5 separate regions of the Homo sapiens genome follow, and all the other regions are linked to region 1. The links come from fine-mapping of genetic effects on gene expression. A gene starts in region 1. Each other region holds a variant in brackets. All regions are shown on one strand. Distances are between the middles of the regions.

The links. PIP is the estimated chance that this variant, and not a neighbour inherited with it, causes the effect.
Region 2: its variant is fine-mapped to the expression of CDKN1A in whole blood (TOPMed, PIP above 0.99).
Region 3: its variant is fine-mapped to the expression of CDKN1A in whole blood (TOPMed, PIP above 0.99).
Region 4: its variant is fine-mapped to the expression of CDKN1A in whole blood (INTERVAL, PIP 0.93).
Region 5: its variant is fine-mapped to the expression of CDKN1A in whole blood (TOPMed, PIP above 0.99).

What each region holds. Positions count from the first base shown.
Region 1 is chr6:36,675,028-36,681,108 of GRCh38, forward strand. CDKN1A (cyclin dependent kinase inhibitor 1A) reads left to right here and starts at 3,687. Exons shown (of 3, transcript NM_000389.5): 1 at 3,687-3,771. It overlaps DINOL (damage induced long noncoding RNA), which reads right to left and starts at 3,532. Exons shown (of 1, transcript NR_144384.1): 1 at 2,582-3,532. PANDAR (promoter of CDKN1A antisense DNA damage activated RNA) reads right to left here and starts at 99. Exons shown (of 1, transcript NR_109836.1): 1 at 1-99. It also overlaps the pseudogene LAP3P2. RefSeq lists enhancers at 1,199-1,288, 1,339-1,408, 1,388-2,587, 3,780-3,969, 3,981-4,568 and silencers at 3,500-3,729, 5,300-5,689.
Region 2 is chr6:36,726,838-36,732,918 of GRCh38, forward strand. RAB44 (RAB44, member RAS oncogene family) reads left to right here. Exons shown (of 14, transcript NM_001257357.2): 11 at 740-854; 12 at 1,863-1,964; 13 at 3,836-3,912; 14 at 5,166-6,081. The coding sequence ends at 5,256. Among named protein-coding and RNA genes, the nearest start is that of RAB44, 32 kb to the left of the region's middle. The variant A/G (reference allele first, on the strand shown) is at 2,893.
Region 3 is chr6:36,751,755-36,757,835 of GRCh38, forward strand. CPNE5 (copine 5) reads right to left here. Exons shown (of 21, transcript NM_020939.2): 13 at 4,491-4,544; 14 at 1,280-1,341. Among named protein-coding and RNA genes, the nearest start is that of RAB44, 57 kb to the left of the region's middle. RefSeq lists an enhancer at 3,608-4,807. The variant G/T (reference allele first, on the strand shown) is at 3,911.
Region 4 is chr6:36,733,757-36,739,837 of GRCh38, forward strand. It overlaps the pseudogene GPR166P. Among named protein-coding and RNA genes, the nearest start is that of RAB44, 39 kb to the left of the region's middle. RefSeq lists an enhancer at 1,504-2,005. The variant T/C (reference allele first, on the strand shown) is at 2,887.
Region 5 is chr6:36,744,010-36,750,090 of GRCh38, forward strand. It overlaps CPNE5 (copine 5), which reads right to left. Exons shown (of 21, transcript NM_020939.2): 15 at 4,212-4,258; 16 at 2,387-2,568; 17 at 1,379-1,506; 18 at 1,039-1,141; 19 at 259-316. Among named protein-coding and RNA genes, the nearest start is that of RAB44, 49 kb to the left of the region's middle. RefSeq lists a silencer at 924-1,124. The variant C/T (reference allele first, on the strand shown) is at 2,872.

The sequences.
Region 1 (6,081 bases):
AAGACAGGTTGTAGATTGCCAGCTGGCTGATGTTAACAACATTGGAAAATATAGATCTGCGGGAGCATGTACATCTGCGGCATTCCTGAAAGAATTCGTGACTCATCCTAAGTGGGCACATTTAGACATAGCAGGTGTGATGACCAACAAAGATGAGGTTCCCTATCTATGGAAAGGCATGACCGGGAGGCCCACAAGGACTCTCATAGAGTTCTTACTTCGTTTCAGTCAAGACAATGCTTAGTTCAGATACTCAAAAATGTCTTCACTCTATCTTAAATTGGACAGTTGAAGTTAAAAGGTTTTTGAATGAATGGATGAAAATATTTTAAAGGAGGCAATTTATATTTAAAAATGTAGAACACAATGAAATTTTTATGCCTTGATTTTTTTTTCATTTTACACAAAGATTTATATATTTTTTTTTTGAGACGGAGTCTCACTCTGTCACCCAGGCTGGAGTGCAGGTGGCATGATCTCAGCTCACTGCAACCTCCGCCTCCTAGGTTCAAGCGATTCTCCCACCTCAGCCACCTGAATACCTGGGACTACAGGTGCCCACCACCATGCCCGGCTGATTTTTGTATTTTTAATGGAGACGGGGTTTCACCATATTGGCCAGGCTGGTCTCAAAACTCCTGACCCTGTGATCTGCCCGCCTCGGCCTCCCAAAGTGCTGGGATTACAGGCGTAAGCCACCACGCCCGGCCAGTATATATTTTTAATTGAGAAGCAAAATTGTACTTCAGATTTGTGATGCTAGGAACATGAGCAAACTGAAAATTACTAACCACTTGTCAGAAACAATAAATCCAACTTTTTGTGCAAAAAAAAAAATACAAATATTAGCTGGGCATGGTGGTGCATGCCTGTAATCCCAGCTACTCGGGAGGCTGAGGCAGAATTGCTTGAACCTGGGAGGCGGAGACTGCAGTGAGCTGAGATTGTGCCACTGCTGACTTTGTCTCAAAAAACAAAACAAAACAAAAAAACAAAATGAAAACAAAAAGCCAGGGCTGCCTCTGCTCAATAATGTTCTATCTTTGTTCCGCCTCTTCTCTGGGGTCTCACTTCTTGGGAGCCTGTGTGAAGGTGAATTCCTCTGAAAGCTGACTGCCCCTATTTGGGACTCCCCAGTCTCTTTCTGAGAAATGGTGACATTGTTCCCAGCACTTCCTCTCCCTTCCTAGGCAGCTTCTGCAGCCACCACTGAGCCTTCCTCACATCCTCCTTCTTCAGGCTTGGGCTTTCCACCTTTCACCATTCCCCTACCCCATGCTGCTCCACCGCACTCTGGGGAGGGGGCTGGACTGGGCACTCTTGTCCCCCAGGCTGAGCCTCCCTCCATCCCTATGCTGCCTGCTTCCCAGGAACATGCTTGGGCAGCAGGCTGTGGCTCTGATTGGCTTTCTGGCCGTCAGGAACATGTCCCAACATGTTGAGCTCTGGCATAGAAGAGGCTGGTGGCTATTTTGTCCTTGGGCTGCCTGTTTTCAGGTGAGGAAGGGGATGGTAGGAGACAGGAGACCTCTAAAGACCCCAGGTAAACCTTAGCCTGTTACTCTGAACAGGGTATGTGATCTGCCAGCAGATCCTTGCGACAGGGCTGGGATCTGATGCATGTGTGCTTGTGTGAGTGTGTGCTGGGAGTCAGATTCTGTGTGTGACTTTTAACAGCCTGCTCCCTTGCCTTTTTCAGGGCAGAAGTCCTCCCTTAGAGTGTGTCTGGGTACACATTCAAGTGCATGGTTGCAAACTTTTTTTTTTAAAGCACTGAATAGTACTAGACACTTAGTAGGTACTTAAGAAATATTGAATGTCGTGGTGGTGGTGAGCTAGAAGTTATAAAAAAAATTCTTTCCCAAAAACAACAACAAAAAGAATTATTTCATTGTGAAGCTCAGTACCACAAAAATTTAAATAATTCATTACAAGCCTTTATTAAAAAAAATTTTCTCCCCAAAGTAAACAGACAGACAATGTCTAGTCTATTTGAAATGCCTGAAAGCAGAGGGGCTTCAAGGCAGTGGGAGAAGGTGCCTGTCCTCTGCTGGACATTTGACAACCAGCCCTTTGGATGGTTTGGATGTATAGGAGCGAAGGTGCAGACAGCAGTGGGGCTTAGAGTGGGGTCCTGAGGCTGTGCCGTGGCCTTTCTGGGGTTTAGCCACAATCCTGGCCTGACTCCAGGGCGAGGCAGGCCAAGGGGGTCTGCTACTGTGTCCTCCCACCCCTACCTGGGCTCCCATCCCCACAGCAGAGGAGAAAGAAGCCTGTCCTCCCCGAGGTCAGCTGCGTTAGAGGAAGAAGACTGGGCATGTCTGGGCAGAGATTTCCAGACTCTGAGCAGCCTGAGATGTCAGTAATTGTAGCTGCTCCAAGCCTGGGTTCTGTTTTTTAGTGGGATTTCTGTTCAGATGAACAATCCATCCTCTGCAATTTTTTAAAAGCAAAACTGCAAATGTTTCAGGCACAGAAAGGAGGCAAAGGTGAAGTCCAGGGGAGGTCAGGGGTGTGAGGTAGATGGGAGCGGATAGACACATCACTCATTTCTGTGTCTGTCAGAAGAACCAGTAGACACTTCCAGAATTGTCCTTTATTTATGTCATCTCCATAAACCATCTGCAAATGAGGGTTATTTGGCATTTTTGTCATTTTGGAGCCACAGAAATAAAGGATGACAAGCAGAGAGCCCCGGGCAGGAGGCAAAAGTCCTGTGTTCCAACTATAGTCATTTCTTTGCTGCATGATCTGAGTTAGGTCACCAGACTTCTCTGAGCCCCAGTTTCCCCAGCAGTGTATACGGGCTATGTGGGGAGTATTCAGGAGACAGACAACTCACTCGTCAAATCCTCCCCTTCCTGGCCAACAAAGCTGCTGCAACCACAGGGATTTCTTCTGTTCAGGTGAGTGTAGGGTGTAGGGAGATTGGTTCAATGTCCAATTCTTCTGTTTCCCTGGAGATCAGGTTGCCCTTTTTTGGTAGTCTCTCCAATTCCCTCCTTCCCGGAAGCATGTGACAATCAACAACTTTGTATACTTAAGTTCAGTGGACCTCAATTTCCTCATCTGTGAAATAAACGGGACTGAAAAATCATTCTGGCCTCAAGATGCTTTGTTGGGGTGTCTAGGTGCTCCAGGTGCTTCTGGGAGAGGTGACCTAGTGAGGGATCAGTGGGAATAGAGGTGATATTGTGGGGCTTTTCTGGAAATTGCAGAGAGGTGCATCGTTTTTATAATTTATGAATTTTTATGTATTAATGTCATCCTCCTGATCTTTTCAGCTGCATTGGGTAAATCCTTGCCTGCCAGAGTGGGTCAGCGGTGAGCCAGAAAGGGGGCTCATTCTAACAGTGCTGTGTCCTCCTGGAGAGTGCCAACTCATTCTCCAAGTAAAAAAAGCCAGATTTGTGGCTCACTTCGTGGGGAAATGTGTCCAGCGCACCAACGCAGGCGAGGGACTGGGGGAGGAGGGAAGTGCCCTCCTGCAGCACGCGAGGTTCCGGGACCGGCTGGCCTGCTGGAACTCGGCCAGGCTCAGCTGGCTCGGCGCTGGGCAGCCAGGAGCCTGGGCCCCGGGGAGGGCGGTCCCGGGCGGCGCGGTGGGCCGAGCGCGGGTCCCGCCTCCTTGAGGCGGGCCCGGGCGGGGCGGTTGTATATCAGGGCCGCGCTGAGCTGCGCCAGCTGAGGTGTGAGCAGCTGCCGAAGTCAGTTCCTTGTGGAGCCGGAGCTGGGCGCGGATTCGCCGAGGCACCGAGGCACTCAGAGGAGGTGAGAGAGCGGCGGCAGACAACAGGGGACCCCGGGCCGGCGGCCCAGAGCCGAGCCAAGCGTGCCCGCGTGTGTCCCTGCGTGTCCGCGAGGATGCGTGTTCGCGGGTGTGTGCTGCGTTCACAGGTGTTTCTGCGGCAGGTGAATGACGGGCGTGGGTCGGTGCGCGCTCGGCTTGCGCACACGGTGTCTCTAAGTGCGCGGGTGACGAGAGTCGGGATGTGCCGGAGACCCCGGGGCGGAGAGCGGGATTACAAGTACAGGAATCCCTGGTCACGCTCCCCGCCCCTGGAAACCCAGCTGGGGCGAGGGAGGGCGTGGACGGGACCGTTCTGGGAGCTCGCCTTTGGCTGCGGTTGGCTCCAGGCCCCAGGCGCAGTTTGCTCGCGGCGTGGGGATGAAGTCCGTGTCCCTGGAGGGGCCCAGGAAGGGCGAGGAAAGCGGAGTGGAGTAAGTTCGTCTAGGATCGGTCCCGGGTGGCTCTGGGATCCAATCTGCGCCGCCCTGGCCCAGGTCCCAGGTTCAGGTCCTTTACGCCACTGTGTCCACCACCTGGCTGAGCGCTGAGGTCAGCGCGGGCTGTTTCCTGGCCCTTGGGAATGTGCCAGGACCCGTCCCCTAAGGACTAGCGAGGAGGTGACTCACTGTGACAAGGAGACCCCAGGGAACGGACTGTATGAGGTCAGAACCCCGCCCGGGATGGGGTACAGCGGGACTCCAGAAGCCCTCTCCCCTGCCCCTTCGCGGTCTCCGTCCTCCCATCGGCACAGTGACCTATTTGGCTGGAACAGTTTGTTCCCAAGGAAGCCGGGCACTGGAGGTCCGGGACACCGCGTCGGGTCCCCGCTCCGCGGCGCGCTGTAGGGGTCGGGGAGTCACGGCCCTGCTCTGGGCGGGCTCTAACCAGCCTGTCAGTCGGGGAAGGGCAAGGGTCTCCTCTACCTCTTTCCCACCGCGGCCGGGAGAATCGCGGCCCAGCCTGTCCTCGGGTCGGGGCGCTGGACTCCGGGGCGGGAGCGGAGCCCACGCCTGGATGGGAGGCGGGGAGGGTTCATGTCTTTGAGGGGTGGGGGGTCTGGGGGGCACGACGCTGCTCAGGGCCTCTATCAGCTGCCTCGGGGGCTCAGGGCTTCCCGACCTAGCCCAGATTCCCTCTCCGAAAGCTACAGGGCTGAGCGGAGCAGGGGGGCGAGTCGCCCCCTGGGGCGCCGCCGCCTGGCGCGGACCACAGCGCGTCCTCTCCGTCCCAAACCCCTGGGGGACACTTGCGCCCTCTTCGTGAGGAAAAGCATCTTGGAGCTGGGTTAGGAACTTGGGGCGCCCAGGCAGCTTCCCCTCTCCTTGCCTCCCTCCACGTCGCGTTTCTGGGAGGACTTGCGAGCGGTTTTGTTTTCGTTGCTCCCGTCTATTTTTATTTTCCAGGGATCTGACTCATCCCGTGCTTTGGGCGTGGAGATAAGGTGGAGGGGCCGGCTCCCGGCGCGCGCGCGCGTGCGTGTCTGCGCGGGCGTGTGTGTGTGTGTGTGTGTGTGTGTGTGTGTGTGTGTCTGTGTCAGAGACGGCACAAGAGCGCGCGGTTTCCCAACAGCGGCGGGAGTTTCGGAAGCCTGGCCGGCTCAGCGTGACGTGTTCGCGGCCCCCCGGTCCCCTCCCATTCTCCCCCTCCCCACCCCAGGGTGACGCGCAGCCGGAGTGGAAGCAGTTTTGGCGGGCGAGCAGCGCCTTGCAGGAAACTGACTCATCACTACTCCCTCCAGCGGTCCGAGGCTCTGCCCACGCACCTCCCACTCCGCGCGTGATTTCCTGGAGGCCGGCGCCCCCTCCCGGCCCTGGCGGGAATAGCACACAGGCTTTCCCGCGGAGTGGGGCTGGCCGGCGCGAACCGCCGCGGCTACTCCTGGGCTCATCCGAGATCAACCCCTATGCCATTACCACCCCTTCAAAGGAGCACTCCTTAGGTTCAACAGTATTCACTGAGCTCTTACTGGAAATTAAAATATGGCTGAAGTCTAAGGCAGGAAGGCCAATAAAGGAGGCTATTTTTAATTGTTTCTAAAACAAGGGTTTGCGTTTCTGAGTTTTCTTTGGGCTGAAAGTTATTATGAGCATGAGAGCAGATTTTGATGGGGGAGGAGAGGCCTATGAGAGCCATAAGAGAAGGAGGGGTGGTAGAAGAGGAGAGGGTGCCTGCCTAGATCCTAGTCCTGTCTTGAACTCCCGAGAGCCAGGGAATATCCAGCACCTTGATGAAGCCCTAGGCGGGCGCCTCCTCCTTGTGCCTATGATGTATTGAGACCCAGAATGTCCATT
Region 2 (6,081 bases), 52 kb after region 1:
TCACCCAGGCTGGAGTGTGGTGGTGTGATCTCAGCTCACTGCAATCTCCACCTCCAGGGCTTAAGTGATTCTTGTGCCTCAGCCTCCTGAGGAGCTGGGACTACAGACACATACAACCACATCCAGCTAATTTTTGTATTTTTAGTAGACACAGGGTTTCACCATGTTGGCCAGGCCGATCTGGAACTCCTGACCGCAAGTGATCCTCCTGCCTCAGCCTCCCAAAGTGCTGGGATTACAGGCGTGAGCCACCGTGCCCAGCCCGATAGGGAAATTTCTCCAAGACATCCTGTTAACTGGAAAAAAACAAAATGCAGAACACTGAATATTAATGAGTATGATGAATGTTTTACACTGTATTTGTATAAAATAGAGGGGGAAAGATGTATGTGTATGGGTGTATATATGTGTGTGTATATATATGTATATACGTAAAATGCCTCTGGAAAAATATTTAAGAAACTGATAACCCTGGTTGCCTCTGGGGAGGGGGACTGGGTGGCTCCAGGATGGGGCAGAAGGAAGGAGACTTTTCATTGAGTTCTCCTTGAGACCTTTTGAAATTTGAGCCATGAGAACTGTTACCTAGTCAACAATAACTACACTGTACGAAGAAAAGCATACGGACATGCTCTGTGGGAAGCAATTAGAAGTAGGATAGGTTACTTCTCCCACTTTGCAGAGGCCAGGGCCTGGGGTCTGGATGCCTGGTGTGGCCTCATGCAGACTCTCTGGGCAGGTACCACAGTATGACGCGACAGCTGCTCCGCAAGGCTGACGGGGTGGTGCTCATGTACGACATCACCTCCCAGGAGAGCTTTGCCCACGTGCGCTACTGGCTAGACTGTCTCCAGGTGAGCAGATGGCTGCTGGGGTTGGCCCCAGTCCCTCCAGTCAAGAGGGATCTTATATCCTGCCCACTCCCTCTTTTCTCCCAGGATTACAAATGACATGACAGACATATGGGTGACACCACCCACTGAGGGCATGTGGTTGGATGAGCTGGGAATGCAGTAGTACAAAGAAACCACAACCACATAGTACAGACTTCAAACCAAACTACTTCCTTTATCCTGTGAACATTCTCTTCCTACATATGGCAGCTGTTTGTAATGTCTTCTTCTTACACTTGAGGCTAATGTAGTTCTTGTGCCATTCCATGTGGTAATTCCTCTGTTCACACATCTCTAGTTTTTCCCCTGCTTACTTCCTCAAAGCATATATACTGAAATTCTGCAGTGTGTACTAGCACAGCAGAGGGGTGTGAAGTTAGCCATGTTGCCTTCTCTCTGGAAGTTTCTAGTTTAGCAAAAGAAGCAGGATAAGGTAATGTGTGAAGAGGGGAGCTGAGCACTGGGGTCTGACAGGACCTACATTTGAATCCCACCCACCCGAACTCTGTGACTTTGGACAAGTGAATTGAGTTCTCTGAACTTCAATTTCTGGAATTCTCTCATAGGGGAGTTGTGACAATTAATTGATAGAATTGCTTTCAGCACAGCACCTGGTGTATAGCAATCACTCACTAATCAGAAACTATTATTATTATTCATGAGACAATTGGGAAAATGTATAATCAAGTGCTGGACTGTTCAGAACAGGCAGGAAGAGAGGACATGGGCAGGAACAACCCAGGAAGGCTTCCTGGGGGAGGTGTTCTTAAGGTTGGCCTTGGAAAATAAGTGAGATGTTTATCAGCAGAGAGGAAGGATGGGGGAAAGGGTCCAGGTGAGAAGGTTATGGAGTGGATGTGGCCTGGGAGGGGGAACATGCGGGGGACACAGTTCAGCTTCTAGGAAGGCAAATGTGCCAGGAGCCTGGCACACAGTGGGTGTGGCTGACAGAACATGTTCTGTGTGCAGGATGCAGGGTCGGATGGGGTGGTCATCCTTCTCCTGGGAAACAAGATGGACTGTGAGGAGGAACGGCAAGTGTCCGTGGAAGCTGGGCAGCAACTGGCCCAGGTAAGCACTTGGGCATCAGCCCGTCTCTGTGCGTGGACTGGGCAGACACCTCCCTGGCAGGTGGTGGATAGGCATCACCTGACCTGGGCAGCCGAGAAGAACCCGTGGCCCATTCCTGCCCCTGCCCCAACCAAAGGCCTGTTCAGAGTGGACAGCAGCCTAGCCACCTCTGCCTCCCACACAGCCCTGGCCTCTGGAGATGCGCTTTAAGCCCAAACCCAAGGCTGGAGTGGCGGGCGTGACACTGAACCTCACTGTTGAATTAGCACATTCCCACACCATGTCCCCACCTACATAAGAAATAGCTTCAGAGTAAAAAGGTTTTGAAAGCTTTGCTTAAAATTCCCAATCAAATTTTAATTTTATCTCTGGTCTCTAATTAACGTGCTGCCTTCTAAGTTCTCCTATTTTAAGACTCAAATTCTCCCTTGGGATGATTACATCAAAAGCCCCACTGCCAGACAGTGAACACTATCTATTCATGAATGGCATTTAACCACATTCCAGAAAATCTGGAGAGTAATAAAAATAGAGGGAAAAATCACTCCTCGCCCCACCTCTCACACAACCCCTCTTGGCATCTTCCTACTGTATTTCCTTCCTGTTTCTCTTCCCACTTCCCGTAAATTGTGAGGTCATCATTGTGGCTCCTGCTGGAAGGGAATTTTTTTTCTTTCTTTCTTTCTTTTTTTTTTTTTTGAGATGGAATCTTGCTCTGTCACCCAGGCTGGAGTGCAGTGGCACGATCTTGGCTCATTGCAACCTCCGACTCCCGGGTTCAAGCGATTCTCCCACCTCAGCCTCCTTAGTAGCTGGGATTACAGGCATGTGCCACCACGCCCGGCTAATTTTTGTATTTTTAGTAGAGACGGGGTTTCACCATGTTGGCCAGGCTGATCTGGAACTCCTGACCTCAAGGGATCTGCCT[A/G]CCTCGGGCTCCCAAAGTGCTGGGATTACAGGCGTGAGCCACCATGCTCGGCCTTTTTCTTAAAAGTAGTAACTCATCCCTTTGACATAGTAATTTATCCTCTAGCAATTTATCGTAAGGGAAGACTCAGAAGTAATAATCCCTAAAGGAACACCTAATGGATACCCATGTATAACGTACAATCGAACAGGTTTATATGAGGGTTTTCAAATATTATTTATAAGAACAAACATTTGGCAGCAATTGGTGGTTAAACTGTGGATGTTCATGTGAGAGGTTAGTATTTGCCATTAAGAATCCTGTCTTGGAAAAATATTTAAGGGTGTGGGGGAAATGCTTACAATATAATAGAAAATCATATAAGCAGCTACAAATCTAGATATAGGTTAGGTTGAAACATATGAAATTGCTGATATTTGACTGGAGCTTGCCAAAAATAGCAATTTCGTGTGGTTTAACCTAACTGTACAGGACAGTTAGCCCCCGCCCCGTAAAAGGGTTATATAAAACAGAATGGCAATATCTACCCAAACACTAACAGCAGTGGTTTAGATATTGAGCTGGTACTGTCTTATACTATATCTTCCAATATTCCCCCAATGAAATATTTCTGAAATTAAAAAACATAACTAACATTTATAAAATGTCTCCAGGGGCATTTCTCCAAGTTGGGATGCAGGCTTCCCATGCCACTCCGAAGGCTGTGAAATGTCTCTTCAATGCATTCCTTGACACCTTGGCCAGCCGGGGTGAAGGGACAGTGGGCAAAGGGCTCCAGGCAGGGACCGTGGCCCACGCTGAGATGGGGCTGTCTTGCTCGCCACTGAGGTCAGCTTAGGGATGCATTGGGACTCTGATGGCCGGGACTTTAGTGGCGGGGTATGGCCTGGCCTTTCAGTTGTCTCTCCCAAGGCACATATGTCCCTCCCTGTCTGGCCTGCAGGAACTGGGGGTCTATTTTGGGGAGTGCAGTGCCGCCTTGGGTCACAACATCCTGGAGCCTGTAGTAAACCTGGCCAGGTAAGTGCTGCCCGCCCCCCGCCGCCCCCACCCCCCCCCTTGCAGAATCCTCTGGGACAGCTCCGGCCCCACTCTTGACTCCCAGGTGGGACAGGAAGGCCCATTCTGAGGAAATGGGTCAGGGAAGCACCTAGTTAAAGACCTGGGCTCACCAGTCTGAGGGGAGAGAGAGCCCTGCACTGAGAGTCTCCTGACTCCAGCTCTGCCCTTCCCGTTCGCTGAATCACTCCCCACAGGCACTTAGGCTCTCTGAGCCTCAGTTTTTTCATTTGCAAAGAGGGCTGAGAAAAGGAGTGTCTCTCTTCTGCTCCCAAACTTCCAGTAGCTTCCATTAAAATCCAAATGCTTTGCAATGGCCTGCAGCATCTCTAGTGCCATCTCCCCCACCCCTACACACACACACATTCACTCACACCCACACACACTCACACTCTTACACACACTCACACTCACACACACACACTTGCCAAGTTCCAGCCACTCAGAGACTCCCTCCCTGATCACCCACCTGCCATCACTATTTTGGATCACAGCCCCTGTTTGTGTCCTTCATGGCCCTTCTTGACACGACACATATTAATGATATATGCATTTATCTGTTTTCTTGTTGTCCAGGAAGGCAGGGCCATGTCTGTTTTGTTCAGCCCCTCTCCCCATACCTGGGACCTAGGTGCTCCATAAATGAATAAAATGAGTAAGGCATGAGGGGAGCTAGATCAGATGAGCACCATCTGGCACACAGTAAATATATCACGAAGAAATGAATGGACTTCTTTTGCTTCCCCAGCCTCCAAGCTCTCTCGGCACTGAGCCGCGCCATGGCCCTCTGCTTGGGATGCACCTCCCCCACCCTTTCTGCTGGCATACCTTGTCCATGGCTCAGTTCGGTCACCATCTCCTTCCTCCCCAGATCCCTCCAGGACCTGGTGTGAAGTCCCTGTGTGCCTCCCCATCATTCCCGGGCTGCAGTCACCCCTTTTCCTGTCTGTCTCTCTCACTACTCAAGGGAGGGAATGGTGGCTTCTTTGTCATAGTCAGAGTCCTGCACAGTGCCTGGCACATAGTAGGCCAGAAAGAGAAGGTCAAAGTCTCAGTGACTCAATTCTTCGGGTCTCATGTGGAATGCAGGGCAGGGGCAGAGCTGTTGTGGGGGTTGTGGGTGCGGCCTCCCACCCCCCAGCTGCACCCATGGGCCCATCCGTGCTGCCCGTAGGAGGTGAGAGAGAGGCCTGATGCCTGGCACTGTCACATAGGTCACTCAGGATGCAAGAAGAAGGCCTGAAGGACTCGCTGGTGAAGGTGGCCCCCAAGAGGCCGCCCAAGAGATTCGGCTGTTGCTCCTGATCACCTGTCCTGTCCTGGGTAGGATGGACACCCATGGGGTTTCCTGTCCCTCAGCTCCTGTCCTTTGTTCCTGGACAGCAACGACACAGAGGACCAGCTTGGAGGTTCAGGAAAACCCTTCTCAACTCAGGACTCGGATCCCAGAGCAGGGCCGCATCACCTCTGCCTTTCACACTCCAAAGGAGGGCTTTGCTGAGTGAACAAGGCTTGAGGGGCAGGGGTATGGCAAAACTCTCCAAACAAAGAAAGTCTAGAAAAACGACTTAAGGAAAATACACCAAAATATTGGCCGCACATCTGTGGGTGTAAAATTTTAGGGAGAATGTGGGGGGGGGGTGTTACTTTCCATTTTACACATATTTGTATTTTCAGATTTTCAACAATAACAGTATTCAATACATAATCAGAAAAAAGAGATGTGGAGGAGGAGGAGAGAAACTTCCCAAGGAGCTCCCTTGGGTGCTGCTGGCTCCTAATTAGTGTAACCTGTTAATCACATGTTGCTCGGTGTTAGAGCGGTCCCTCTGTGCTCTGCTTGGCAGGGCGCTGTTGGCCTGGTCTCCCTCGCTATTTCTATTTGCAAGCATGGGCTTTCTTCCCAGCAGAATCTGGTTCCTGGGAAGAGTAATGTTCCAAAGGCCTCTGATATGCCTCGATGCCCTCCTGTCTTCCAGAGCCCCAACCTCACTCCCTTTCCCCACCATACAAAACACACCTCCCAGGGGTCACATTTGGGGGTCCCGCCCCCTGCTCCAATGCCATGGTGTCCCCAAGCACAGGGCTTTGGCCTGAGTTGTCAGTCTCTGGATGCATTTGAGGGGCAGC
Region 3 (6,081 bases), 77 kb after region 1:
ACTGCACTCCAGCCTGAGTGACAGAGCGAGACTCTGTCTCAAAAAATAAATAAAATAAAATAAAATAAAATAAACATAAATAAAAATAAACAGGATGAGGGGTGTTTGAGAGTTACCAGGTGCTATGGACTGTAAGGGGTGGCTGATTAATGGGATTGAGAGGGAAGCAATTTTGATGGGGGAAGAGTGCAAAGGCGGGGTCTGGAGTCAGCCCAGAGGAGGGGCAGGTAAGAGCAGAGGAGCTCCTGAGTGACTGGAGGCAGGGTGTGTGCTCAGTGGGTAGGAGGAGAGCTTGCAGCCTTGAGACTGCAAGCTCAAGGCAGCAGGGAGTGTTGTCATGGGAAAGTGAGTGTGGCTTCCCAGGACCTGACTTCTCCCTCTGCCCTGGAGAACCAGGCAGCCAAGGGTCCACTTGGCTGGGATGAGCCTTTGGCAGTTGCTCCTGCCTGTCTCCTTTCCAGACAGGTGCAGTCACTCACCTGCGGGCTCTTGGCTGCCCACGCCCTGACCTGGCACCTGTCCTGGCAGGCAGCATGCTGGGCAGGCTCTACCCTTAGAGCCAGGCTCTTTCCGTGAGCTGCTGGCTGGGGCCTCCTGGCTCCCCCATCTGTCTGGGCCTAGACACTGTGCCTGGTGGTTCTTTCTGCTCCTTAAACTCATGTTTGACCACCTGCTGGCCCCAGGACCAATCCCTGGCTTATCCCCAATCCCGCTGCCCTTACAGGGCCCTAATAACAGTGAGCAGGTTAATCACTGTCCCCCTCCCCCAACCAGACAGATCAGAGGTGTCAGAAGCTCAGAGCTGTAAGGAACCTTAACACTTACCTATTCCGTTCTCTTTGTGTACAGAGGAGGAAACTGATACCCTGAGAGGAAAAATGACTCACCCAAAGGAACCCAGCAAATTAATGGCAAAGAGAGGCCTAGAGCCTGGGCCTCCTGACTCCTATTGCAGGGTTCTTTCTACATCCCCAAGCCCTTGGCTTTCTGTCACGGAGTCCCTACCAGCTCCAGGTCCTGTCTCTGCATGGAGACCTGACATGACCCAGGCCAGCCTCCTTGGCTCAGGAGTTCCCTCCAAGCTGCTTGGGATCTGGGGATGTGCAGGGCTCTGGATGAGTTGTCTCAGCCCAAACACCAGGGTTTGCTCAGAGCCCAGCACCACAGCCTTCAACCAGGGCTTTGAAGAGGCCAGGGTGGGGCCAGAGCCGGTCCTGTCGGTGTGTGGGGCCCTTTCCCTCTCCCCAAGGCCCATGAAATTGGCTGTATCTCTTCTCACCCTCCTTTGATGTAGTCAAGGAAGGTGCACTCTGACTCCACAGCAAAGGAAAGCAGGGTGACCTTCAAAACAAAAGGGAGCTTGGTCAGTGGGGAGCCTGGGGTCAGGGGAGATGGGTTATGATTCGAGAGCTGACATTGACAGAACACTCGGCATGTGCCAGTTTTGCATGCATGACTGCATGCACTGCCCACACCACCCCATGAAGTACTATTATTATCCCCACTTTATAGCCAAGGAAACTGAAACCCAAAGAGGTGGTGCAATGTGCCCAAGGACACTGCCAGGGCAGAGAAGGGATCTGAAACCAGGGTGTGTCTGACTTCAGAGCCTGCACTCTTGACCTTGACGGAAGGGTCCCATCTGTGTCAGTGGAACCGGGGTCCAAGCCAAGGGTGTTAGTTTCCTCTAAGTGGGCACTGGCTCTTCAGCCCCAGGGACCTAGGGTGGGGTGTGGAGGACAAGGGGGCCCTCCTGGCACAGGCCTAACAACCTGCCAATGCCGACCAGCTTCAGGCTTCCATGTGCCTAGAGCTATTAGTCCTGAAATGTGCCTCTTTGGACTGTGCTTATCTTAAATCTTACTGGTCCCATCTCATCCCTCTCAGACCCAAGATCCTGCCTCATAAGTAGCCCATCCTTTTCCCCAGAGGTAACTGACTACCCCAGGCCCCCTCCCCCAAGCAGAGGCCTTTTAACCTATGCCCTGGCAAAGTTAGCTTTGGCTTTGCCAAGACAGGCAGCTACCTGGCAGCTCATTATCATAACAATTTAGAATCAAGGAGACAAATGAAAGCCTGGCATCCTAGGCCAATTATATGAGACAAGATTAGGGCAGAGGACCTTTCACCTGTGTAAGAGAACGAACTCCTCTCTGGTAGTTTGGGAGCCCCCTATTCATGAAGATTCAGCTGTTTTTACAGGCTCATTGGGAGGGCCAGGTGAGAGCACCACCCTTACTTGGCAGTAAGACCCCCAGCTATTGTGGTTAAGGTATTAGGCACCTGGATGAACCACAGGCCTCCTTCCAAGTGTGGCAGCTCAGACTTACTAGGAACCACGGCAGTGGCTTCAACCCTGACTGATGACCATGAGATGCCCTGGGGGCTCTTAGATCATCCTGCAGCCCAGACCCATTATAGCCGAGTTTCCGGGGCTACATGAATGTTTCAGAGATCTTCTTTTTTTTTTTTTTTTTTAGCTCTTCACGTAAGTCTAATCTGCAGACACAGTTGACCACTCCCCATTCCAACCCCCAGGATGAAGCAATGCCCTAACTGCCCTGACCATATGGGTTCACCCAGGGGCTCGCAGGGTGAAAGCAGACTTTCCCCTATTCAAAGGGTAGTGTCCCTAGACCAGAGCGTCAGCATCACCTCGATGCCAGGTAGAAATGCAGAAATGCAGATTCTTGGCATTTTCACAAGATCCCCAGGGGATTCTGCACACCATAAGTAAGGGATGAAAAGCACTAAACACAGATTCCTGGGCCTCCTAAAGTGGAATCCCAGGGAACTGGCCTGGGCGTCTGTATTTCAGCAAGCTTTCTGCATCCCGGGTGATTTTTCGCGATGAAGATGGGGAAATGCTGGAGTAAAAGGAAAGTCAAGAGACCTGGGCCTAGGCCCGCTCTGTCTCCAGCTCACTGTGTGACCTGGGACAAATCGCATGCCCTCTCTAGGCCACAGTTTCTTCGTCTCTAAAGTAAGAAGGCTGGATGAGATCAGTGGTTTTTGAACCTTTTTATTCCCAGCTGGGGAAGGTGCTGTCTTCCCTAGGGGAATTTAGGAAGGCGTGGGAGAATTTTGGGGGTTCTCATAATGACTGGGGCTCTACTGGTAGCTATGGGCAGCAGCCAGGGGTGCTAAACATCCTGTGAGATGAAGAATTTTCCTGCCCAAATGCTGACAGCCTCTCCACTAAGAAACACCGCAGCCTTGGACAAAGGAAATATGACTCCAAGCCCCAGTCTGTGAAGCAGTTACAATCAAAGAAGTGGTGTTCAGTCCCCTTTGAATGAGCAGAGTAATTTTACAGTTCACAAGCCTGCATCTCCCATGTGTCTGTCACAGCTGCCCTGTGCAGTGGCAAGGTGGGGATGATTTATTAGTCCTACTTTACAGACGGAGAAAATGAGGCTTCTCAGAGGAACCCCAGAGCTCCTGAAAACCTCTTCTAGGTCTGGAGATACAGTCTGCCTGACTCAAATGACCAGGCTTGGCTGCACTAGCCATGGGCCTCTAGAGTGAGGAAGGAACACAGAGAGGATGAATCTGGGTGTGTTTGCACTGCAGAGAAAGTGGCTTGTTCTAGAAATGCACTGTGAGCTCCACCTCAGGGCCTTTGCATGTGCTGTTCTCTACAGCAGGAATGCTGGAATTCCCTTTCCCCAGTATCCTCAATACTTCCTCCATTGCCTGTCCCTTTACCCTTTATACTTTTTCCATAGCTCTCATAATCAACTGACACACACAGGCATGTGTGTGTGTGTGTGTGTGTTTTTTTTTTTTCTCTGTCTCCTCCCACTAGAATATAAGCACCAGGGATTTGGGTCTGTCTTGTTTCCAGCTGTATCTGATGTGCCTAGAATAGTGCCTGGCACACAGTAGCACTCAGTAAGTATTTGCTGAA[G/T]AAGCGTATGAATGTCCTCAAGACCAGCCCCGAGAAGCCACTAGGCCGGCGTGTCATCCCAGGAAGGTCACGGTTAAGCAGGGGCAGCGCCCGTAGCAGCTGCCAGCTCTGGAGTGAGATGTCATGTTGAGTCCCATCTCTACCACTTTCTAGCTGTGTGACCTTGGCTGAGTCACTTTCCTGCTTGCAGCCTTGGTTTCCTCTTTCATGACTAGGGGATGATAATATCTGCCTCTCAGGGCAACAACCTGTGAAAAGCACCAACGTGGGGAATTTCCCAGGGTAGGGGCCCAATAAATACGACTTCTCTTCCTCTTCCTTCCTGCAGGAAGTCCCGTGGATGTCTCTGCGATTCCTCATGCTAGATACAGCCAGCGCCTGTTGTGTGGTCTGCAAGTCAACTCTCTCCCCTGGCTGTTGCTCCATCTGCCCCACCCCTCCCCACCCCATCTCTCTTGGATGTCTGATTCCCACGCTCAGCCCCTGCACACACACAGACGCACGGGCCTCCCTGATACCAGACCTAGCTTGGGGCTCAGAATGTCTACACCCGGCTGCAGAGACCGGGGTGGCTACTCACTGTGCCAGAATTCACGTATTTCTTTTTCTTCATTTTCTTTTTCGGGTTTACCACCTGCAGGAAAAACCAGTTACCAGGTAAGGCATGCTTCCAGGCAGTCAGGGTGAGTCTTGAGGGCTTCCAACCACCCATGGGTGTGGTCCAAGCCCAGCCCCATTAGAGTGTGGGGTGTGAAGACCACGGGGCCAGGGGAGAAGGGTTTAAGGAGGATTTGTGGGAGACTGGTATTGAGTCTGGGTTACACAACTGGGTTCTCCCATCAGACCCAGGGTCCCACGATCAACCGGGAATATTTATTTAACCTTCTCTCCCACTGTTCCCCGGAACACACGCACCCTCCACCCAGTATAGCCAAAGAAGTCTTGATGTTGCAAAGCGGCCCTATCTGTACCTGTCCCTTGTGTTGGTTGAGGCTGCTCCCCTCACCAAAAATGCACCCCCTTCCTCTCTCAGCCAATTCCAATCTCCCCTGTTCCTCCTTTGGGACCCAGCCCAAGGGCTGCCCAGGGCCTCTGAGGCTCCCCTCTCCATCACCATCCCTCTTACTTGGCAGCAAGAACCTCTTTAGCTATTCTTTGAGTGTAAGCTTTAACTTCCAAACCAGACCTGTGTCAGATAAATCATGGGGCTAGGCTCAGAGTAGGTGCTCAGAGAAGGCTTGTTGGTGGCTAACTCAGCGGTCTCAACCAGGGGCGATTTTACCCCCAGGAACGTTTGGTAACATCTGGAGACGGTTTTGGTTTCCACAACTGAGGGGGTGAGTAGAGGCCAGGCATGCTGCTAAACATCCTACAGTACACAAGACAGCCTCCCACGGCAGGGAGTGATGCAGTCCCAAATCCCAGTAGTGCCAAGGCCAAGACTGGGCAAAGTGACGAGAGCCACCCAGCCCTGAGGCCCCCCACGAGACTTCCGCACTTACTGTATTTGTATTCTCATTTGACCCTCGCCAGTTTTTCTTTGTTTTGTTTTTAATAAGGGAAGTCTAGGCACAACTTTTCCCTAATGTCCCATCAAACAAAGCCAGGCAATTTTCATACCTCCTGTGCTGCCTGTTGGTTTCTGGTGAACTCATTTCCCCTTTCCCTGTCTTTGTTCCCACAGAGGCCGTCAGCTGATCTTTACCGTGGTCTCTTCTGTCTGGGTGAGTATTGCTATCTACTTCCAGCAAGAAGGAAACTAAAGCACAGCGACACCAGGTGATTTGCCTAAAGTCACACAGCCATCTGGGTAGTGACAGGATTAGAAACCAGGTTTCCTGCCCCCGGGCCAGTGGTGCATACATTGGTGCCACCTTGATAACAGATACAAACAGATCTCTTTGACATACATTTATGGGGTGGGTGGAGACATATATTGCTTCTCCCCTGGAATCATCTATCACCTATGTTGGAGAGAGAAGATATGTCCTCAGGGCAAAAAGTGACAAGGGCCATGGAACAAGGGGGATCACAGAAGTGTCAGGGGAGTTAGAGGAAGGAAAGACCACTCTAGGTGAGAGTGTCAGCAAAGCCTCTCTGGAGCAGGAAGTCTTGAAGGCAGACTTAGAGGCACAGGAAGGCTCTGGGCACGGAGAGATGGATGTCAGAGG
Region 4 (6,081 bases), 59 kb after region 1:
AGGTAGAGAAGATCCCAGCATCTGAAGCTGCCAAAGTTGGATTAGATTCCCTTAATGGACCCCATTCAACCTCCAGACTCCATGTGGATGATTCCCATGGTCCAGCTGATTCTTTGTGTGTTTTTGTTTTGTTTTGTTTTGTTTTGTTTTTTTGAGACGGAGTCTCACTCAGTCGCTAGGCTGGAGCACAGGGGCGCAATCTCGGCTCACTGCAACCTCCACCTCCCGGGTTCACGCCATTCTCCTGCCTCAGCCTCCCAAGTAGCTGGGCCTACAGGCGCCCGCCACCTCACCCAGCTAATTTTTTGTATTTTTAGTAGAGACGGGGTTTCACCATGTTGGTCAGGATGGTCTCGATCTCTTGACCTCATAATCCACCCGCCTCGGCCTCCCAGAGTGCTGGGATTACAGGCATGAGCCACCGCGCCCGGCCCTCCAGCTGATTCTTTTACTGGGCCCTTCACTGATCCTTTTTACCCCAATGTCTTCTCCCATCTCAGGTCCCCTCCCGCAGCCCACAAGCCTGCCCCTGAACTGAGCAGTTTCTCAGTGTGCTCAGAGAGAGAGAGAGAGAGAGAGAGAGAGAGAGAGAGAGAGAGAGAGAGAGAGAGAGAGAGAGGGGTGTGGGCTGCAGTGAGTGATGCTGGCCCTGGATAAGGATGGGAAACAGGTCCTATAGTTGCTAATGGCTCTTTCTCTGGGGCCCAGGGACCTGGCAGGCACCAACATCTCTGTCCTGTAGGCCAGGGAATTAATGAGGCAGGTAGGCAGGGTGTGATTCCTGGGAGAGGCAGTAGAGCAGACAGCCCCTGTCGTTTGGGGGCCCGGTACGGGAGTGGCCCCCAGGCCTCCCCGTCTCAGCTCAGCTCTGTTGTGGCCTCAGGCAACTCAGGTTCGCAGGAGGTGGAGTTCTGGGAGGAACTCCACACTGCCCAGCACCCTCTTTTGGCTTTCTTGGGCCGGATCCACCTGCTGGGCAGGGCACAGCTGTGCAAGGACCACCAGCCTTTCCTGCTGTCAAAGGGCTCACAAGCCAGGGAACAGGACCCAGGAACCTCAGAGCAGCACAAAGTAGGCAACGACAGCAGCAGGAGAAACTTGAGGTAGACTTCAGAGTGAACTTCCAGGCAAGTGGTGAGTTCTTGGGGCATGTCAGCCAAGGAGGCTCTGATTTAGGCTTAGCCAGAGTCTGATTAAGAAAAGGAGGGTGGGACTGGGCTGATGGGACTCAGGCTGTGGAGTGAGAAGGGAGGGCATGGGGAGAGAAGGAAGGCTGGGCAGGAGCTCTAAGAGAAGAGGGCTTTTGGGAGCTGAGGGTGAGCAGGGGCAGAATGACATCCCTCCTTTACCCAGTGCCTACCGTATGCCAGGCACTGTTCTGAGCACCTAGCTCGTGTTAATTCATTTAGCCCTCACACCATCAGGCGTGCTCCCCCATCTTACGGAAAAGGAAAGTACTGCATAGGGAGGCTGAGTAACTTCCCCGTAGTCACGTAGCAAGTAAGTGCTGGAGCCAGTGTTAAACGCAAACGCCGATACCCATAGACTTAACTCTGAAGTTATGCAACTGCTTACAGGAAGATGCGGATGCTTCGGGGAAGGAGGGGCCAGGTCCCTGAAGCCTCGTATTGCTCCCTGCCAATTCCTCTCCAGTAATAGTCCATGTCATTGGTGGGTGTGGACCAGGAAAAAGAGACGAAAAGGCAGTGATAAATGCCAGGAAAGTGGCTGGATGACAGCCTTCATCCAGGACAGGTCCTTCATTTCCCCTCCTCCTGCCGTCTCTGAAGCTGGTGGGACCCGGGAAGGTGGCCGACATCAGAATTCACAGAGGCCCCCTCTCCAGTCTCCCCTCAGCTGCCCTCAGGCACGTTGCTGCCCTGGGGCCCCAGAGACGAAGCCAAGTTCCCCAGGCTGGGGCTCTGCAGGAGGGACTCAGAGACTCCTTCAAACCTGGCTTTGAGCCCGCAGGAGAAGAGTGTCTCCAGCCCCCACCCCGGTGTGGTAGAAAAGGGGAGGGCAACTCCAGTAAGGACTCCTCTGCTATGTCTTGTTTGCTGCTGGATTCCGGGAACCTGGTCCAGAGCAAATGCTCAGGAAATATGTACTGAGTTAGCAGGCAAGCCTCCAGCTAAAGCTCCCGGGCCCTGGCCTGGCCTGCAGGGCGGCCAATGGTGACATCAGCCACTGGGCTGGCTCTAGGATGTCTACATCCCATCTTGTAGCCAGAGTCCTCCCAATCGGGGACTCCCCCTGCCCTTGACATGTGGGACAGAGTGGGGGTGAGAAGAAAGGTCTGACCACTGGGTGCAGACTCCCCCACTCTGCCAGGGGCCTGCACAGCATAACCTAGAGGGCAATGATTCCCAGGCTGGTCTGCCCTTAGAATTATTTGGGATCTTTCAAAAATGCTAAAGCCCAGACCAACTATGTCATGTCTCTGGGGGTGGGACCCAGGCTTCTGTATTTGTGAAACTCCTCAGGTGATCCCAAAGTGCAGAGAAGCTTGGGAACCACTGGAAGGGGCTTCACACCTTCTCAAAGCCCTTTCAGACCCACTTTTCCATTTGAACCTCAAATTAAACCTGCTTGTTTCACAGGGCAGGGTTTTTGTTTTGTCAAAAAATAGATACATATGTGTGTGTGTATGTATGCACATATATATTTATCAGATTATGAAAACAATGTGTACTCCCTGCAGAAATTTTAGAAATAAATTTTAAAGAAGAAAATGAAAATTACCCTAGTCTTACCACTTATGATAGTTACTATTGACATCTGTTTTATTTTATTTCCTTGCTTTCTTACAGCTGAGGAAACTGAGGTAGAGAAACATTAAGTAACTCTCCCAGGGGCCAGGTGCGGTGGCGCCTGTAATCCCAGCAC[T/C]TTGGGAGGCCGAGGCATGAGAATCGCTTGAACCTAGGAGGCGGAGGTTGCAGTGAGTCAAGATCTCACTCCAGCCTGGGTGATAGAGTGAGATTCTGTTTCTAAAAAAATAAATAAATAAATAAATCCCAGGGTACTGGAGCTAGCAAGCAGCAGAGGCAGGATTTGAACCCAGGGTACTAATGGAGTCCATCCCATGGGGTTGTCATGAGGTCTGCAGGGGCTAATGTGTGCCAAGGACAGGCCTTATCTGGGCCCACTACATGCAGGGGGTCTGTGAAAAAAGGAGGCTTAGCAGGAATGGGGAAGGCGGCCTTTGGGGCTGGCTGGTTTCTACTTTGTCCTTGTGTGTTTGAAACAGAATGGAGCCCAATGCTACGTTCACCACGCAGCTCACGGCCACACCTGAGCGACTGCTCCGACTCATCTCTGCTGGGGTCTGTGGCCTCATCCTGCTGGTGGGGCTGTCAGCTAATGGGCTCATGCTGCTGGTGGTGGGCCGGGGCCCGGGCTCCCCCCACCCGCTCCACTCCCTGACCCACAGCCTCATGATGAACATCACGCCATCTGACCTGCTCTTCCTGGCCTGCGTGGTGCCTGTGCTGCTGCTGAGCTTCCTGCAGCACAACTGGTGGCTGGGCCCTGCCATCTGCACCATTAGCCAGGCCACCAACACAGCCACCACGTTCTGCATCTTCTATAGCATGGTGGCCACAGCTCTCCTGCGCCATGTGGCTGTGGCCCGGCCTGACCTGGCCTTCCCAGCCGGCTGGGGCACCCTCTTGCTGCTCTGTGGGGCCATGTGGGCCCTGGGCCTTACAGAATCCCTGCCCAACTGGCTGTTCCAGAGGGTGGCAGTGGAGGAGGAGACAGCGGGGGCTCCCAAGACCCAGGCCTGCCTCTTGCTCCTGAGCCCTGCTGGGACCTCCTGCTACATCAGCCTGCTGGGAGCCCTGGCCTTCCTGCCATGCACGCTGGGGCTGGGCTGCTCTTTCAGCCACGTGGGCTGGCTCCTGTGGACCCAGCCCCAAGGTCCCATGGGAGAGAGCATCCAGGAGCATTAAGAGAACATAGGGCTCAGCCTTGTGGTGCTGGTGGTTTTTGTGCTGATGTGGGGGCCCTGCTCCATGCTGGGTTATGTGGCAGCCATGGGCTACCTGCCTGCCACACCGGCTGCTTTTGTGGCCTCCAGCCTCTGCACCATCCTGGCCTACTCCAATTGCGCTGTCAGCCCTATCCTCTGCTTCTACCTCTCCCGCCCCTTCCAGGCAGGACTCAGGGACCTCTTCTGCAGGCCGATGATGGCCAGGCATCCCAGAGGTGTGGGAGTGGCAGCCTCAGTGGTGGCGACTGTCCAGCCTGGCCGTGACAGGGCCTCAGGAGGCCTGTGGGGCCTGGCGGGGGTCTAAGAGTATAGGCTGATGGATGCGCTGAGATTCAAGGGAGATGGGAAGACCCTTAGGGACCTGACAGCCCATCCCCTCTATTTTACCAGTGGAGAGACTGAGACCCAGAGGGCAGATGGCCCAAACAAGGTCACAAAGCAACTAAATGGCTCAGCTAGAGCTCACATCTCTAGGTAACCAGATGGATCCTCCCACTCCACTTTCAGGCTCAGATCTCTGTAGGCTCCACTGCTCTCTAATTGTGTGATCTTGAGCCTCTGTGTCTCAGTGTTCTCATCTGGAAAATGGGATGATGACAGTACATACCTTCTTCACAGGGTTGTTATGAAGATGAATTTGCTAAACACATGTAAAGTGCTTAGAAGGATGCTTAGTAAGTGCATATGCGTGCTGGTCATTGCTACTATTATTATTTTATTTGTATTAATTCAGGGGTATTTGAGGTGAGTGGACAAGAGGAGGACAGAGGGGCTTCCAAAGGCAGAGAAGTGGGTGGAGAATGATCTGGGGGGTAACAGCCTAGGGTCCTTAATCCTGAAGGCCAGGAGATTGAGTAGGGGGAGCAGAGGGCCAGCCACAGCCTGGGGGGTGAGCTCAGAGGCAGGACAGCCTTTCCCCTCTCTGCCCACCCCTCCAGCTCTGTTCCACACACCCCTCAGTCCAATAGGGGGACAAAAATCCAGTCAACCATGCAGCCATGACTCCGGGACTGTGAATGTCTGAAGCCCTCCTTTCTTCCCTGTGGCTTCTCTTCCTGAAGCACCTGGGGCAGGGATCCCTTTCAGAGCCCTTTTCTTCTCTCCAGAGCCCAATTTGAGGTTTCCATTTTTCCCACCCTCAGTGCCCTCCCTCTGGCCTGCTCAGGGCAGGCTTCAGGCTTCCATGTTGGCCTGGAAACCCGGGAGATTGTCTCTACTGAAATTCCCAAGACAGCACGTTCTGCTTGGTGACGGTGTTACCAGCAAAACACACATACACACACTGACTCTGTGATACAAAGCTTGAGAAACGTTGGGTTGAACCAAATCATACTGGTCCCTTTGCTGTAGGACTTACCAGAGCCTTGAATACCCAAAAGGCCACTGAGACTCTCGAGAGGGACGCACAGCAGGCAGGTTCCCAAACTCCATGCCAGAGAGCCAGTATTCTGTGGAACACACCTTGGGAAAGAATCCACAAGATGCTACGGTGTTGGGCACAGCAAAGATGCTCTTGGTGTCCCGTCCCGCCCCCGGCAGTGGCTCTGTGCCTCAGTCCCCCTGCCAGGCAAGCACCCTCTCCTGACACTTTCCCACGGCCCCTGTGGTGAGGTGACATGAGCTGCTGGTTATGGGAACTTCCCTCCTTCCAAGCTGTGACCCCACCCTGTTCCCACTCAAAGCATATCAGAATGTAAGTCACAGGGGCATGTAATTATAGGGACAGCCGTGAATCAGCACCCATTTACTATAAAATCATAAGAAGTAAACAAGTCCCAAACTTTGGTATAATTAGTTCCAAATTTCTTGTGATGTTCAGGGTGGGAATGGCTGCCTGGAGGGCTAATCTGGGAACAAACTTGCCCAGAGAAGGGAGAAATCCCCTTTTGCTATGATCCTGGTCCCTGATGGCCACAGGGATTTATATGTGAAGAGGAACAAGAGGAAAACAGTGTTTCTTGGGCACCTAAAATGCCATGGGTCCTGGGCGCATGTCACATATGTCACATGCAACCTTATGTACTCGTCACTCTGGCCACACGATGACCCTGCAAGGATGGGGGTGGTGGTGACGACCCCATTGCACAGGG
Region 5 (6,081 bases), 69 kb after region 1:
AGTGACTTGGGGCCTCCTCCCCACAGCCTTGGGATGTGGGTGTGGGTGCACACCCAGACCTGACACACCCTTCCCTGAGCAAACAAATGCGTCCCACACCCTGCACACTCACCCAGACACACACGCCCAGGCGGGAGCTCTCACTCTTTTGGGAGGGGTCATTCCCAGGGGACCACAGCCTCTGGGGAAACATCTGGGGTGGGGGCAGGGTTGCGTGGCTAGGGAAGGAAAGGAGGGGAAGGCAGCAGCTGGACTCACCGTCGAACTCTGCCTGGCCCACGCCGACGATAATGATGGACATGGGGAGCTTGGCAGCCTGGGAGACAGCATGGGGGGCAGGGAAAGGTTGGACCCAATTGGGACCCAGTTAAAAGGAAGGAGAAATCAGGGGTAGGACAGGAAGGGGTGGGCAGGAAAGAAATGGGAGAGTGAACATGGAGAGACAGAGAAACACAGAAAAGGGGGTAGGGAGAGGGAGGGCACTCAGAGATAAAGAGCAAAGGAAACCAGGCTGCGCCTGGAGGAGAGAGGGAGGGTGGCAGGGGGAATGGGTCATAGGTCTGCTTTGGTGAGTCACCCCCATCCCCTCTTACAGGGAGACCACCGGCTTGGGGAGCCATGTTCCTGAGCTTCCCCAACTCTGAGCCTCCCCTCCCACTCCTTTGACCTGGCCAGGCTGGCCTGGGAAAGGGGGAAGCGGTCCTAGAGATGGGTTAATGAGGGAGTCATTGGGGTCTGGAGGGAGTAGACCAGAGCGTGACTAAGAGGTGGGAACAGAGCTCACCAGCCAGATCTCTCATGATCTGGGCACCCCTTCCACCCGCTAGAATCCACTATCCAGCACCGGACTCTGCAGCCAGAGGCCAGAAGGTGGATGAGGGCAGTGGGGCCCAGTGAGGCAGGGAAATGAGAAGCCACGCCCAAGTCATCTCCAAGCATTTCCCTAAGGTCAAGGAGGTAGGCACATCCCCAGGGTTCCCCTAACGGGGAGGAAGACACTCCTCAAACCGCCTCCCCCACCGCACACTCCTTGCTTACGTTGACAATGGCCTCCTTGGTCTGCGCCATGTCCGAGATGACCCCATCAGTAATGATGAGCAGCACCGAGTACTGGGAGCCATCCTGCACGGCCGCTGCATTCCTGGGTGGGGCAGGTGTGGGCTCAGGTCTGTCTGCGGGACCTCTGGGCATGTTCCCCCCTAAACAAGGACCCTGAACACTTTGGAGGGTGACAGCTCTTGGGGGAATCTCTTCAGGGTCAGGGCTCCCTGAAAGGCAAGTGCGTGGGAAGAGAAACCCCCTCCCACCACCCAGAGGCAGAGCTGGTGTGGAAACAGAGGCCTTGTGAGTGCCTGGAGGCGGTGGCAGCGGCACTCACCTGGCCACGTGGGTGACCACGGGGGCAAAGTTGGTGGGGCCGTACAGCTGCACAGTGCGCAGGCTGCGGTGGTAGGCCTCCAGGATGCCGTCGATGCCACAGCATGAGGGGTTCTCCTGGTTGCCATTCTGGGGGACAGAGGGCAGGGAGGCTGAGCCCAGGAAGGAAGGACAGGGGTGCACGATGTGTGGGAACTGAGTCCAGGTGGGGAGGCCAGCAGGCCTGGGCTCCCCCAGGTCTTCTCTGGTGTGGGGTGGCGGGGCAGGGGAGGGAGCTCCCAGGGCCCATCCTGAAGCAGTGCATGCTTCAGGTGAGCTGGGTCCAAACCTGCTCCTTACCCGGCTCCCTGTACCTGTTCAGAGATGCCCCAAGATCCCTGGCTGCTTCCCTCAGGGAACCTTGGGTAAATCCACTCTGCCCTAAAATGACTGCTGGGTCTCAGCAACTCAGGAAGGACCTGTGGCTGATCTGTCCACGTGCACACTGGGCCCAGCACAGCACCTTGCACCCTCAGGCATGGGAGGGACGTCTGCTGTGCCTGAGTGTCCCCAGCTCGTGGGAGCCAGGGAAAGGGGTGGCCTGTGCAATCATCTCCACAGGGCCCGGGATGCCCAGATGACGCCATGCTCCACATCACCCTGGAGATCCACGTCATCCCATCTCAGCACTGACTCAGGGATACCCAACCCACACCACCTTGTTCACTTTTCTGGGGCCCTGAGGGATGGGTCAGCCACAGCTCGCCTCCACCTGCACCTGCGTCTTGTCAGGAACAAGGAAGCCAGGGCCAGCTGTGGGCAGGCAGCTTCAGACATGGAGGGGCAGCATCTGTGATCAGGGAAGGGAGTGGATTTCTGGAGCCCCCCTACACACAGCAGGCAGTCTACCTCCACTGAGGCTGAGCCTTAAGTCCCCGGGCTCAGAGGAAGGGAAACGTCCCCCCACCCCCAGCTTGTCACCTCACCCCCAGCCTGATCAGTCCTCTCTCCCACCAGCGGGACCACCTACCAGTGGGAACTCGTGGGACACTCTGCCATCCGGGGGCAGCTTGGCCCCGAAGCCCAGGGCAGGGAACATCTTGTCACTGTCGTAGTGCTGGATGATCTCTCCGACGGCAGTCAGCGCCAGCGCGTAGGCGTTCAGCTGGTAGGGGCTCATGTAGTGCAGGGATGTGGACTGTGAGGGGTTCCCTGTAACACAGGACATGGGAGCCTTTGACCATCTGGACCCTCCAAGTCACCCCGGGTTCAGAATGAAGAAGGGGGTGTCCAAGGGCACCCCTAACTTTTATTAATTCTTGACTCCTCTCTTTCTCTCATACCCCATGTTAAATCCTTCAGCAAAACAGATCTAGAATCCCTCCTCCGCCTCTCCTCCTCCCCATACCACCACCCTCTTGCTTATAGGATGCAGCAGTCTCCTAACTGATCTCCCACTTCCTTCTGCCCCTGTGCCTCCAGCCCATATCCAGCACAGCAGTGACTGAGCCTATC[C/T]GCCTCAGAGAGATCATGCCTCTCCTCTGCCCAAAACGCTCAATGCCTCCACCTCCCCCAAAATGAAACCCAAAGTCCTCACAAGAGCCCGCAAGCACTCATGATCTGGCCTCCAGGTCATCTCCTACCCTCCTCCCTGTCACTCGCCAGTCCCAGCCTCACCAGCCCCTCGCCATTCCCACCTCAGGACCTTGGTGATGGCTGTTCCCTCTACCTGGGACACTCTTCCCCAGATGTCCACTCCCTGGCCCGCTCCCTGGCCTCTTCAGGTCTCTGCTCAAGTGTCACCTCCTCAGTGTGATCTTTTCCAAGCAGCCTATTAAAAATTACAGCCTCCCCCAATCCTTCCTATCCTTCTTCCTGGCTTGATTTCCCCCCCCAGAGCCCTCTTCGCTGCCAATATAGTCTGTATTTAACTTATTTGTTCATTGATGGGAGGTAGTACAGCACAGATTGCCAAGGTACCAATCCTGTCTACCTCCTGCTAGTTATGTGATCTTGGGTAAGTTCCTTAACCTTAGCCTTAGTCTCTTCACCTGTAAAATCAGAGCAATAATAGTTCCTACTTCATAGGATTGATGTGAATATTACACAGATGCTATCGATATTATGATAACTATCCTCAGTGTTATTATTACTAAGGCCCCTTCCAGCTCTGATAGCCCAGTGCTCTATGATGCTAGGACTTACAGCTATAAGAGGAGCTCCTGACACCTGTAGAGGGCAAGACCTGGGCATTTTTGATTGGTGCAAAAATTAGCACTGAGCACCCCTAATAGAGCCCAGAGCCCAAGGGAGGTTGTGATGTTTCTAATCATGTAAAGTTGGGCACTGTTATTGCTCCTAGTGACTCAGCCACAGGCTGACACTGGAGAAATTGGGAGGAGGTAAGGAAGCCAGGGCAGCCCCAGCCAGGTAAGGACTGGGGTCCCTGGGCTGGATCCTGCCTCCCTGAACACCACAGAGCTCAGCCTTGGCTCTGATTCTCCACTCCAGCCTGTGGGTTGGACTGCACAGAGGAGCTGGGATTTGATCCCGGGGGGAAACATCTCCAGGGCCCTCCATAGGCCCAGAGTACACACAATCCCATTCCCCCAGGGAGACTGGGTGTTCCTCAAGGACAAGGCTGTGGCTCAGAGCCCAGATTTATGTCAATGGTCCAACCTGGGGATACTACTGCCATCTTGGTTGTATCTTTGGTCCTCCAGACCTAGGTACATCCTCTTTGGTGAGGAAGAGGCCAGAGAGTATGAGGGTCATGGTCCCAGCCAGGGCCAGATGCCACAGCCCTTAAAAGCTCTCTCCTCCCACCCTGCTCCTCTACCCATCCCCCAACTCACCATTGGAGGCAGTGAAATCAATGGCCACAGTGAAGTTGATCTGGGTCCTAGAAGAGGGAGAACAGCAGGGGAGTCACCTGGAGGGAGGCAGGGCTGTGGGAGGGGGGACAGTGCTAGACATTGGCTACCACCCTGGCTCTGCTGCTTGCCAGGTGTGTGGCCTTGGTGAAGTCATTCATCTCTTTCTAGTTCTGGAGAGCTGAGATAGTAATGCCAGCTATGCCCCCCTTACAGGATTAATGAGCATCAGAAGAGTTATGCAGTAGGAAAGCTCTTTGAAGATGATTGTGTTCTGTGTGGGCATGTGGCTATGGTCACTTATTTCCTCCACAAACCCTACCCCCTGGGCCCACCTGTGTAGGCTGGGTGAGGTTGGGTCTCATTGGATTGCTGACTCAAATTTGGAGTGAGATTCAGGACGAAAACTCATTTGACAAAAAAGAGAGTCAAATAGACATTATGCATCTCCTAAAGAAAGAATAGAATACCACCCATGAAGTTGTCTTACCAAAAAATTGAACCTGATTCTGATTGAGGCTCCAGAGCTGTCTAGTTAGTTACAGGAAATACAAGGGACAGAGGAACACATTAAATGACACCACAGGAGATGCAGCCAGCAAAATCCAGTCTTTGGGAAACTCTGTAGAAGCACTACCAGAGACAGCAGCAGCACCATCTCCTGGGAATATGCTGGGCCTCTCAGACTCTATCTAGCTCTCCTGAATCTTTTTTTGGAAAAGAGGTCTCGCTCTGTCACCCAGGCTGAAATGCAGTGGCGTGATCACAGCTCACTTCAGCCTCAACCTCCTGGGCTCAAGCAGTTTTCCCACCTCAGCCTCCTAAATAGCTGGGACCACAGGCACGCACCACCACACCTGGCTTTTTTTTTTCTTTTTGCAGAGATGGGGTCTCATTATATTGGCCAACCTGGTCTTGAACTCCTGGGCAAAAGTAATCCTCCTGCCTCAGCCTCCCAAAGTGCTGGGATTACAGGTGTGAGCCACCACATCTGGCTGAATATTAGATTCTCTTGGTGGGGTACAGGAATCTGTGTTAGCAAGCCATTCAGGTGCTTGGGGGGAATGAATAGATGAAAAGAGAATTAAGAGACCAACCCACCAATCACAGCCTATGGCTCTTGCCTGGATTTCTGACTCAAACAAACCAATTTTAAAACTATAAGATAATTGGGGAGATGTAAACATTTACTAGATATTTAGTATTAAGGAATTGTTAATTTTTTAGGTGTGGTTATGGTATTGTGGTTATGTTTGATAAAGAGAGAGTCCTTATGTTTTAGAAAGACATCCTAAAGCATTTGGGGATAAAATATGATGGCTGGGATTTGCTTCAAATTGGATATTGGGAGCCTGAGGTGGGAGGATTGATTGACACTAGGAGTTCAAGGCCAGCCTGAGCAACATAGTGAGACCTCAAAAATAAAAAAAAAAAACCCACTAAAATAAAAAATAATAATAAATGACTGAATGAAGGGTGGAGTGCATGAAACAAGACTGGCTATGATGTGGTAATGGCTGAAGCTGGGTGAAGGGTACTTGCATGTTGATTATACCTTTTCTCCACATTTGCATGTGTTTGACGTTTTCTATAATAAAAAGTTAGGTTTTGAGGATTCAGATTCAGGCTTGAGACTTTCTGAGGGCTTGGCCATTCTAGGTTCTCTGCCGGGTCCAGACAGAACAAAGCTGACAAACACAAGTCCCTGATAAAGTCTAGTCTTATGGTTCTCACACGGCAGTGAGCATAGAATCACTACGGGTGCTTGCTTAAGAAGATTCCAGGGCTCCACCCCAGAAATGCCAATTGAGTTTGTCTGGAGTGGCTCCCAGAATCTACCTCTTGAAAAAAT